3 linked regions of the Homo sapiens genome follow. The main gene of each other region encodes a partner of the protein of the gene in region 2 in a complex. Each region holds a gene or a part of one and is shown on either strand. Other genes may lie near its edges.

What was found.
Region 1: TMEM216 (region 2) and CC2D2A share a complex: the UniProt entries of both Homo sapiens proteins name them as parts of the tectonic-like complex.
Region 3: TMEM216 (region 2) and TMEM67 share a complex: the UniProt entries of both Homo sapiens proteins name them as parts of the tectonic-like complex.

What each region holds. Positions count from the first base shown.
Region 1 is NC_000004.12:15,535,750-15,539,501, forward strand, and holds part of CC2D2A (coiled-coil and C2 domain-containing protein 2A), read left to right. Parts: intron 1-1,170; coding exon 1,171-1,327; intron 1,328-2,149; coding exon 2,150-2,388; intron 2,389-3,752. UniProt on the Homo sapiens protein: Component of the tectonic-like complex, a complex localized at the transition zone of primary cilia and acting as a barrier that prevents diffusion of transmembrane proteins between the cilia and plasma membranes.
Region 2 is NC_000011.10:61,390,344-61,394,095, reverse strand, and holds the start of TMEM216 (transmembrane protein 216), read right to left. Parts: upstream 1,510-3,752; 5' UTR 1,465-1,509; coding exon 1,431-1,464; exon of another isoform or gene 1,417-1,430; intron 866-1,416; coding exon 764-865; intron 213-763; coding exon 120-212; intron 1-119. UniProt on the Homo sapiens protein: Part of the tectonic-like complex which is required for tissue-specific ciliogenesis and may regulate ciliary membrane composition.
Region 3 is NC_000008.11:93,757,888-93,761,639, reverse strand, and holds part of TMEM67 (meckelin isoform 1 precursor), read right to left. Parts: intron 3,158-3,752; coding exon 3,064-3,157; intron 1,781-3,063; coding exon of another isoform or gene 1,647-1,780; intron 1-1,646. UniProt on the Homo sapiens protein: Required for ciliary structure and function. Part of the tectonic-like complex which is required for tissue-specific ciliogenesis and may regulate ciliary membrane composition.

The sequences.
Region 1 (3,752 bases), on a different chromosome or scaffold from region 2:
GGCGATATGTGTCCATAAGCAAATATTTGTCAGCTTTATGCACTTGTCTAAGTTTATGTAAAATGGATTACGAAGCTTAACTGCCTTGGGGGAAATAGTGCAGTCAGTATTCGGCACCATCTCCAAAGTGCTGGGTGGGATGGATGAAGTCACCACACATTTGCCGCCATCTACCAGGAGAGCCATGCTGTTCATCAACATGTTAAGGGCTCTGAAAAGATGACCAGCAAGGAACCTTTCACACTTATTTAATCCAGTGTTAATATGGCCACAATATCTTTTCCTGGTGGTACATCTCACAGAACTAATGTCCTACAGAACACACTGTGGGAAACGGTGGTTTGAACTGGGCTGATCTCCTGGTGGAGTATAAGCAAAATCATCAAAGAAAAACCCAAATCCTCCATCCAAAGTCAAAAAAGTGGTTTCACCATCATTCTCAGCAAACTATCACAAGGACAGAAAACCAAACACCGCATGTTCTCACTCACAGGTGGGAATTGAACAATGAGAACACGTGGACACAGGGCGGGGAACATCACACACCAGGGCCTGTCGGGGGTGGGAGGGTTGGGGGAGGGATAGCATTAGGAGAAATACCTAATGTAGATGATGGGTTGATGCATGCAGTAAACCAACATGGCACATGTATACCTATGTATCAAACCTGCATGTTGTGCACATGTACCCTAGAACTTAAAGTATAATTTTAAAAAATTAAAATTAAAATTTTTTAAAAAGTGGTTTCAGGGACTCAGTAGCAACAAAATGAAGCAGTTCCTCAGAGACTTGAAGAAGTCATAAAATAACTAATGAAATTTCCACCACTATCAGCTGAGAACTTACAGGCCCCATGTCAGCACACCACACAGATCATTTAACACAGAGAGGCATGGCTGCTCAGTGTTCAGTGGGTTGGGCTCATATTCAGCCCTTCCACTCACCAGCTGTGTGTTCTTGGGAACTTACTTAACTTCTATGTGCCTCTGTCATCTCATGTATACGATGTGGATAATAATAGCATCTGCCTCACAGGATTGTGAGTTTACATGTGCGACATTTTTAGAAGAGGAACTGGCACATAGCAAGTCCAATATAAGTATTTGCTGTTATTATTGCTCTCTTACTTAATTTCCAGAAATAACCAAGGGACTACAAATTATTTTAAAGGGAAAAAGCTGACCAGAAAGCAGATGAAGAAGCATATGAAGCAGAAATTCAAGCTGAAATAAGTGAACTGTTAGAAGAGCACACGGAGGAGTACGCACAGAAGATGGAAGAATACAGAACGTCGTTACAACAGTGGAAGGCCTGGAGGAAAGTGCAAGTGTGTAAACAAACACTCAGCCTGGAATAGGGCTGGCCAGGAAGTGTCTGGGAGGGCAGCCTCCAGTACAGGAGTGGGGAAACCAGACTGGCAGACTAGGGTATCCTGTGGCTCCCTCTGTCTCTTCCCCGTCCCCTGGCTAAGGGATAAAAGGATGAATGAATTGACTGGCTAATGCATTTGCTTAAAAAGCCACCCAGCTGACTGATACCAGAGCCAGCTGTGTCCACAGAGAATGCTATGGTAGCACTCTGTGCCTATTTAAGTAATAATGTAGTAATCACTAATGCATGTGTCCAGCACTGTGCTGAGTATCTTACATGCATTATTCCATTAAATGTAGGGATTGATGCTTCTGAGTTTCCTTCAGAAAATTATATAACTTTATGCACATGACCCTACAAAACTGAGTCCAAGGGCAACAAATAATAGATCAGGTGGGCCTGCAATGCTCACTGTGCTTACATGCCTTATTTTAATATTTCAAGATGTGTACTTCGCCTTGAAAACCAAAATTAATGATCACATGAATACCTACCATTTTTTAAGCTCTTTCCAGGGACTAGGCTGTATGACAAATGCTTTTTAGGCATTTCAACAGTCTCATTTCAACAGCCCTGGGAGAAATTTCCTGGGCTCCATTCTGTAGATGAAAAAACTGAGGCACAGAGAGGTCAGGTGGCTTAGTGACCTGCCTGATTACACACTTCTGGTTGAAATGGGGCTGGGGTTTGTATCCAGGTCCATCTGGCTATGAAGACTGTGCTCTTAAATGAAATTCCAAAATTCCTGTTTGATATCATGTTGCCTCTAACTCAACAGAGGGCCAAGAAGAAGAAAAGGAAACAAGCAGCAGAAGAACATCCCGGTGATGAGATTGCAGAGCCGTATCCCGAGGAGGACCTTGTGAAGCCCAGCCCTCCAGAGCCCACTGATCGGGCAGTGATAGAGCAGGAGGTGAGGGAGAGAGCAGCCCAGAGCAGGAGGAGGCCTTGGGAGCCCACGCTGGTCCCGGAGCTAAGCCTGGCAGGAAGCGTAACACCCAATGACCAGTGCCCCAGGTGAGTGGATGCTCCGACCGTAAATGAGGCTGACATCTGATACACATGTTCACGTGGGCACATGCACACACACATGCACGACATGGGGAGTGTACACTTACTGACCTACACGAGCATCAGGAGTATCATTAACTCTAAATGAATATTAGGTTGAACCACATGAAATTGCTGACATTTGCCCACTTTAGGTGATTTCATATGATTCACCTACCTCATGCATCTGCACTGGCCACTCAGGAGCACACTGGAAAGCTCCCTGTAGGAGAAGCATCCCAGTTGCAAATCTCTGCCTGCTCTTCACAGTGGCTGTCTGTGTGGCTTTTGATTTGAGTCCCTTATCTGTAACCTCAATGAGTCCTTCAGTCCACTGGTAGCATGTCCCACCTTTCTGGCACAGGCACGGATGCCTTTCCTTGCCCCTTCCTTGATTTCAGCTGCTCCAGGGATCAGCTTTTCTCCTTGAAGACCCCCCAGAAAGTTGTGGGTGGTATTTAAGTCAGGCCATCTGAAGCACACCCTCCAGATATGATAAAAATACATGTCTAGTCATTCTCACTTGATGCCTAAGAGAAACATCATTTGATTTATATACATTTGTACATATAATAATTCATAAACATACATTTGTAAGTTCATCTTTTTAAAAATTATAACATAATAAAAATATTTTTATGTTTCCTATTTATTCTTTCCTTCACTGAATAGCCATGGTTCTCAAAGTATAGCCCCAGAATCAGCAGCATCAGCATCACTGAGGACTTGTTAGAAACATAAACTCAGGCCAGGCATGGTGGCTCATGCCTGTAACCTCAGCACTTTGGGAGGCTGAGGCAGGAGGATCGCTTGAGGCCAGGAGTTGGAGACCAGCCTGGGGAACAAAATGAGACCTCACCTCTATTGAATAAATAAATAAATACCCCAAACATTTTTAATACCTCACATTGAAATAAATATGTTTAAGAAAGATTAATAAAAACTAGCCAGATAATTAAAGTCAACCAACTAAACAGAAATTTAAAAAATAATTTTAAAAAAGAAAGAAATGCAAGCTCACAAGTTCTACCTGAGACTTACTGAACCTGAAACCCTGAGGTGGGGCCTAGAAAACTGTTCTCACAAGGTCTCCAAGTGATTCTGATGCATGTTATGGTATATCATCATTAATTAAAGGGAGTCCATTAAAATCATCGATACCACAAAATCCCAGGCTTAGTTCTCCAGTAAATAGAAGATCTATCATGAATACAGGGACTGTTGTACACTGGAATCTTCAATATCCCAACGTGAAAAATGAGAATTCAAATAAAGTCAGTCAGCCTCCGAGTTCATTAAAACGTGGGAGTTAATTAGGATGTCATTATAAG
Region 2 (3,752 bases):
TAGGATATACAGATCCAGTCTATGATAGTCAACCTAGGTTATGTACTTTTCTTGTTAATCAAGTTACAGATACCAGCTTGTCTCATAAGGAGTGGAAATATTCTCTGGACAACACTTACCAAAAAACAGGCGAATTACTTCAATTCCAAGATAAAGGAGGAGCATCACCACATCCAGTACTAGGTTAGCTGTTGGATATGGTAGCAGGACACCTGCCAATACAAAAGCCAGAGTTTGCAAACAGCATATAACAGCACCCACAAGAACTGCCACACACTTGGGAAAAAAGAGGACATCAGTCTCAGCTTTCCATGAACTAGTTAGTGAGATGTGGGCATTATTACAGCAGCAGGATACATAAACTCACAATGCGACTCAGGCTCATTATTATGGTGTTTTACTCCTAACTCCAAAAGTCTCTGGGGACTCCACTCTCCAAAATGATTGGATGTACATGGGTACACAGGCCACTGAATAGTTTCTAAGGGTCACCAGTGGGCTTACAGTGGAGCTCAGCAAAGAGCAGTGATGTGGGCAGAGTCAGAATGGAGAAGCCCACATTTCTCAAACTCAAGAAATTCTTGCTGAGGGGCTGCCTATGGAATCATACTCAAAGAAGCCATCTGATGAGGAGGCCTGCCTTGCAGCGACAAAGAACTGCAGGGGGCAGAAAAGAACGGAAAATAAGAAGGTTCTTGGTAGGAATTGGCTCTGAGCTGAAGTGGGGAAGGGATGCTGTCGTCAAGCCCCAAGCCTTCCTTACCTTTATACAGAAATATGAAAAGTTCCAGCAGGAAATAGGTAGCATTATACCACCCGTTCAGAAAGAACAGGATTTCCAGCGGGGTGGAGGACAACCGTTTACCTGAAAAAGGAGCACAGAGAAGTGGGATGGGCCGGAAGGCAGCTCCCTCTCTGCTCGTATGGGTTGGTGTCTAACTTTGGGGAAACTAGACGCTGCAACTAATGGGACCGGCCACTCAGGGGCACTTCTGGTTGCTGATAATGAGGGGGCGAGGGTACGGGGGTGGGAGTGGAGGGGGCTTCCCTCCTTTCCTAGGAATCACCGTGAAACTCGACTCTTCGGCTTCAGGAATAAAAGTCAAGAGGTAACTCGCAGCTGACAGACATCTCAAAGATCTCACTCTGTCACTATTTGGGAGGGGAAGTTGGGGCGCAGAGACCAACAGATTCGCACCTGAGCCAGCCTAGAAGTGGCCCAGCCAAGGATCTGCGTTTATTTGAGCTGTGCACCTTGAGACCTTCAGGCACCCAGGGTGGGCGGGACCGCGGAAGCCGGCTTTGGACCAGGGAGGCGCGACGTCCCTAACGCTAGAGAATGGAGGGTTTAGGTCAAGCTCTGGGACAGAGGTGGGAGGGAGCGACCGAAGGGAAAGGGACCAGCGACTCACACACCTCCGGAATCTCACCTCGCGGCGCCATCTTCAGTCCCCGTGGCAGCATACGCTGCCACAGCGGCTCCCGGAGCAGCGCGGCGCTGCCGGAAACAGGGACGAAGCGGCCTGGGTTTCCGGCCCCTCTGCCCGCCCGCGGCACTCTGTGGTCACCCGGAGCTGGACGAGCTCGGGCCTGGCCGCAAGTGGCCCTCGCTCGGATGTCCCCTCTCCAGACCTAAGGGATAACGGTGACCACCCACGACGCCGTCGTCTGCAGGACCTCAGGGGTGCGGGGGAGGACCTTGGAGGCTCTCAGACTACCGGGCGTTGGGCGGAAGTGGCCAGTTGTGATAGTGTTACCAGGAGATTGGCAAATAGGTCCTACTCCCACGATTCTCTTTTTTCAACGGAAGACAAGAAAAGGTGTGAGCGACGGATCTCTGCAAATGCAGGGTGGAGTTAGCATTGGTCTTTTCTGCGGCCGATTTACCTACCAGGTAGAGACACGAAGGAAATAGAGCGTCCTTTCCAGGAACACACATAAATAAAATGAAACGAGTCACCACGCGATCCATAAAGTGGTGCAGTGGGAGCTGAGAGGACAAAGTGCTCCCAGGTGGAAATCTAAGTTAGTTTCCAAGAGACGGCCTGTGAGCTGGGCTTCAAAGCCTGCCTGATCCGGATTTGCAGCGGTAAAAGCGTGTTGCTGGCCGGGCTTAGTGGCTCACGCCTGTAATCCCAGCACTTTGGGAGGCCGAGGTGATGGATCACCTGAGGTCAGGAGTTCGAAATCAGCCTGGCCAACATGGCGAAACCCCGTCTCTACTAAAAATACAAAAATTAGCCGGGCGTACTGGCGCGCGCCAGTAGTTACAGCTACTTGGGAGGCTGAGGTAGGAGAATCGCTCGAACCCGGGAGGCGGAGGTTGCAGTGAGCTGAGATCGCGCCACCGCACTCCAGCCTGGGCGACAGTGAGACTCTGTCTCAAAAAAAAAAAAAAACAGAAAACTGTGTTGCTGCAGGCAGGGGAGTGCAAAAAGAAGGGTTTTGAGAGGACTCAGGTTGACTTGACTTGGCTGTTAGCCCGTTGTCAATCAGGGTAAAGCAGGAAACAGATGGCACGCTCCAACCAGGTAGCCTGAGGAAGGTGACTAAGCTTTATTTTATTTATTTCATTTTATTTTTGAGACGGAGTTTTGCTCTTGTAACCCAGGCTGGAGTGCAATGGCGCTATCTCTGGTCACTGCAACCTCCGCCTCCTGGGTTCAAGCGATTCTCCAGTCTCAGCCTCCCAAGTAGCGGGGATTACAGGTGCCCCCCACCACACCCGGCTAAATATTTTTGCATTTTTAGTAGAGACGGGGTTTCACCATGTTGGCCAGGCTGGTCTGGAACTCCTGACCTCAGGTGACCCGCCCCCCCCCCCCCCCCCCCCCCCCCCCCCCGCCTCCCAAAGTGCTGGGATTACAGGTGTGATTAATGCCCCCGGCCAAGAGTGACTAAGCTTTAAGCAAAGTGCTGTACCCCTGGCTAATTGGGATGTGGTGGGGCGGTAATTGTTACTTCTAGGCTTAAAAGGGAAGGGCCTGAAACAATTCCCTGAAGCTGGAGAGTAATATGTGCATAGAAGGCCTCCCACTAGGAACCCTCACACTCTAGGAGGCTAGTGGATAAATATAGCAGGGACCTCCATTTCCCTTCTCCCATCTCTGATCTCTGCTTATGTCTCCCGCTGACACAACTTAACTGCAAGCTGGAGGGCAAGGAAGCCCTTTAGGGTAAGTAGGAAAGCGCAGAGCACAGAGGTTAAGGTGGAAAGGAATCCAGATCCTGCTTCCCCATCTTCGCTGCCTGCAAGACAAGAGACATTAGAAAAGTTCCTGCTCTGAGCCTGATATGGAAAGAAAGTGGGCCAGCTGCACCTGGCGCGGTGGCTCACACCTGTAATCCCAGCACTTTGGGAGGCTGAGGCGGGTGGATCACTTGAGGTCAGGAATTCAAGACCAGCCTGACCAACATGGTGAAACCCCATCTCTACTAAAAATACAAAATTAGCCGGGCATGATGGCACATGCCTCTAATCCCAGCTACTTGGGGGGCTGAGGCATAAGAATCGCTTGAACCTGGGAGGCGGAGGTTGCAGTGAGCTGAGACCAAGCCATTGCACTCCAGCCTGGGCAACAAGAGTGAAACTATGTCTCAAAAGAAAAACAAAGAAAGTGGGCCAGCTGCTTGTTTTTGTAAATAAAAGTTCTTTGGAGAACGTCATCATGGTCACTTACTTACATGTTATTATATATTGCAGCTTTCATGCTATTATGGCAATGTTAAGTAGTTGCAACAGAGACCACATG
Region 3 (3,752 bases), on a different chromosome or scaffold from region 2:
ATTCTATACCATTGTATGACTATATCATAATTTAATTGATTGATCTCATCTTGATAGAATCTTATTTTGTTTATAATCTTTTGTCTTAGGAATAATGTTGCAAGAAAAAAACATTCAACACTTCTTCAGGCATACAGTTAAGTGTATCCAAATGAGAAATTTCTAGATGAGAGCTTTCCAGGCAAAGATAATCTGTATTTTTAATTTTGATAAACACCATAAATTTGCTTTCCACAGAGGTTGCACCAACTTAAAATTTTTCCCATTAATACACGAATAACTATTTCCCTGTATCCTTATAAATACATTGTCAAAGTTGAAAAAGTTTCTTTTTTATTTTGAGATGGAGTTTCACTCTTGTTGCCCAGGCTGGAGTGCAATGGCGTGATCTTGGCTCACTGTAACCTCCACCTCCTTGGGTTCAAGCAATTCTCCTGCCTCAGCCTCCAAGAAACTGGGATTACAGGCATGTGCCACCATGCCAGGCTAATTTTGAGTTTTTAATAGCGACTACATTCGTCAGGCTGGTCTTGAACTCCTGAACTCAGGTGATCCACCTGCCTCGGCCTCCCAAAGTGCTGGATTACAAGCGTGAGCCACTGTGCCCGGTCGAAAAAATTTTATAATAAAATCTGGTAGGTTAAAAATAAAATCTCATTTTAGCTTTAACGTACATTTTCTTACTCTGAGTAAAGTTGAACATTTTTTTCTCACGTTAAAATATTTTTTTCTATGTGAACTTTATTTATGACTCTTGGCTATTTTAAAAATTGGGTTATTCATCTTACTTTTATTTATCTGTAGGAGCTTTACATTTATTGAAGAACTTCGACCTCTGTCTATTGTATGCATTAATATTTTTCTTTAGTTTGTAGTTTGGTTTTTGGTATTATAATTTTTATGGCATTTTATAAATTTACCAATTTTTTCTTCTGTGGTTTTTCTTTTTTTCTTTTTTTTTTGTAGACACAGAGTCTCTCTATATTGCCCAGGCTGGTCAGGAACTCCATGGCTCAAGTAATCGTCCCACCTAGGCCTCCAAAGTGACTGAGTATTTTTGGTCATACTTAGGCCTGTTAAACCAAAACTATACAAATTTTTCCTGCATTTTCTTTAAGAACTTTCATATATTCATATTTAGTATTTGACTCATTTGGAGTTTAATTTTCTCAGAAATAAGGTAGAAACCCAACCTGGGTGTTTTCTCAGTTTTCCCAGCATCATTAATCAGTTTTATCCCCACTTATATGAAATGCCACTTTTTTCACATACCAAATTCCTATATGAATTGAATCTATTCTGATTGCCTGTTTTAAGTTCCATCAATCAGTCTGTGTATCCATAAGCCTGTCATATATGTGATTATAGTAGCTATATAACATGCATATTATCTGATGGGGTAGTTCCTTCTTTCCCTTCCCAGAATTTTCTTAGCTTTTCATATAACTTTCCTGTTAAACTTCAGACTCTATTTGTATATTACCCCAAAACAAACAAATAATATCCTGATAGAATTTATTAGGGTCCTTTAAAATATACAGACTGGTAGAAGAGTTGCATCTTTCTAATATTTAATCTTCCCATCCAAAAATAAAGAATGCATTTTCACTTAAAAGCCTGCCTTCATATCCCTCAGTAATACTCACAAATTTCTTCAATTATGTTGTACATTCCTTCTAAAGTACATGCCAAGGTCAGGTGCGGTGGCTCAAGCCTGTATCCCAGCACTTTGGGAGGCTGAGGCAGGCAGATCACCTGAGGTCGGAAGTTCAAGACCAGCCTGACCAACATGGAGAAACCCTGTTAGCCACTAAAAATATAAAATTAGCCAGGTGTGGTGGCACATGCCTATAATCCCAACTACTCGGGAGGCTGAGGCAGGAGAATCGCTTGAACCTGAGAGGGAGGTTGCAGTGAGCCAAGATCACACCATTGCACTCTAGCCTGGGCAACAACAGTGAAAACTCTGTCTCAAAAAAAAAAAAACAAAAATAAAAATTAAAATTAAAAAAAAGGATATGCCTACTTATTTTTTCTTTTTTGTTGCTACTGTATATGAGGTATTTTCTTCCATCACTGTTTATAATAATTTTTAGTCATTCTGTTGGGTGTTTTAAACATACAATCAAATCATCTGTAAACAATGATATTTTACTTTTTTTTTTTTTTTTTTTCATGAGACAGGGTCTTACCCTGTCGCTCAGGCTGGAGTGCAGTGGCGCCATCTCAGCTCACTGTAGCCTTGACCTTCCAGGCTCAAGCGATCTTCCCACCTTTGCCTCTCGAGTAGCTGGGACTACAGGTGCATGCCACCGTAACCAAATAATTTTTTTTTTTATTTGTAGAGATGCGGTTTCACCATGTTGCCCAGACTGGTCTCAAACTCTTGAGCTCAAGCAATACACCTGCCTTAGCCTTCCAAAGTGCTAGGATTAACAACGGCCTACCTTTTCTTTTCCAATGATAAATATTTTTTTTCTCTTACTTAAGTGCATAGTTTGCATCCTTTTCCAGGTCCTGACATTAACAGGAATGCTTACGCTTTTTCCCTATTAAGTATCAAGTTGGCTTTTGAGTTGAGACATATTTTGTCATGTTATGTTAAGGAAATAACCATCTAATCCTACAATATTAAGAGTTTTAAAAAACTCAGACAAAACTTTGTATTTTCTTCTCAATGCCTGCTGATGTTTTAAGTATCATTAATTTGTACAAAAATAATTTTTATAAACACTATTAAGGGCTGGACACAGTGACTGATGCCTATAATCCCAGCACTTTAGGAGGCTGAGGCAGGAAGATCTCTCGAGGCCAGGAGTTCAAGACCAGGCTGAGCAACATAACGAGACCCAGTCTCTACAAAAAATTTAAAAATTAGCCAGCTGCAGTGGTGTTATGTGTGCAGTCCCAGCTACTCAGGAAGCTGAGGCAGGAGAATTGCTTGAGCCACTGCAAAAATATTAAGTAATCACTTAACTATTTAAATTAGTGCCCTTTTCAAATAAAAACAAAAACAAGAATGAAGATTTATCACTACTTCTTTATAAGGAATCTAATTCTTACCTAAAATATGGCCAATGGGACAGTGACATTTTCCTTCGGCAGTTAAGTCACTAGGGCAAGAAATGCAGTTCCAGCCATCTTCTGTAACACCTTTCTAAATTAAAAGAAAAAAAATGCTTTTCTCTTTTTTAATTAACTTTCTTCTTCTAATCATGTAAGTTCAAAATGCCATAAGAGTATGTAACTACAGTGAATATTCAAATAAATCATACATATATGAGCCACATAAAAATTCCCTGGAGAGATAATTCATGCTTATATTCCAAAATGAAGCTCTATATTATCACTATGTCCTGAAAACTATTAAAGGATTAACTCCGGATAATAGTTCTCTCTTCTTCAGGATCTTTAATTCAAATGGATGCCTCTTTCATAATTATTTGTCATTTCGTTTTTCCATTTACAAATATAAAACACAACACAACACAAAAAGATTGAATCAACGGTCAGTTAATAGGTTAATCTTACCTGTTCTAAAACTCTATTCTAATTTTTAAAAATTCAAATACCTAAAAAATTTAGTCCAGGCACAGTGGCTCACGTCTGTAATTCCAGCACTTTGGGAGGCCAAGGTGGGTGGATCACTTGAGGCCAAAGCTTGAGGCCAGCCTGGCCAATGTGGTGAAACCTCGTCTCTACTAAAAATACAAAAATTAGCTGGGCGTGGTGGTGTATGCCTATAATCCTAC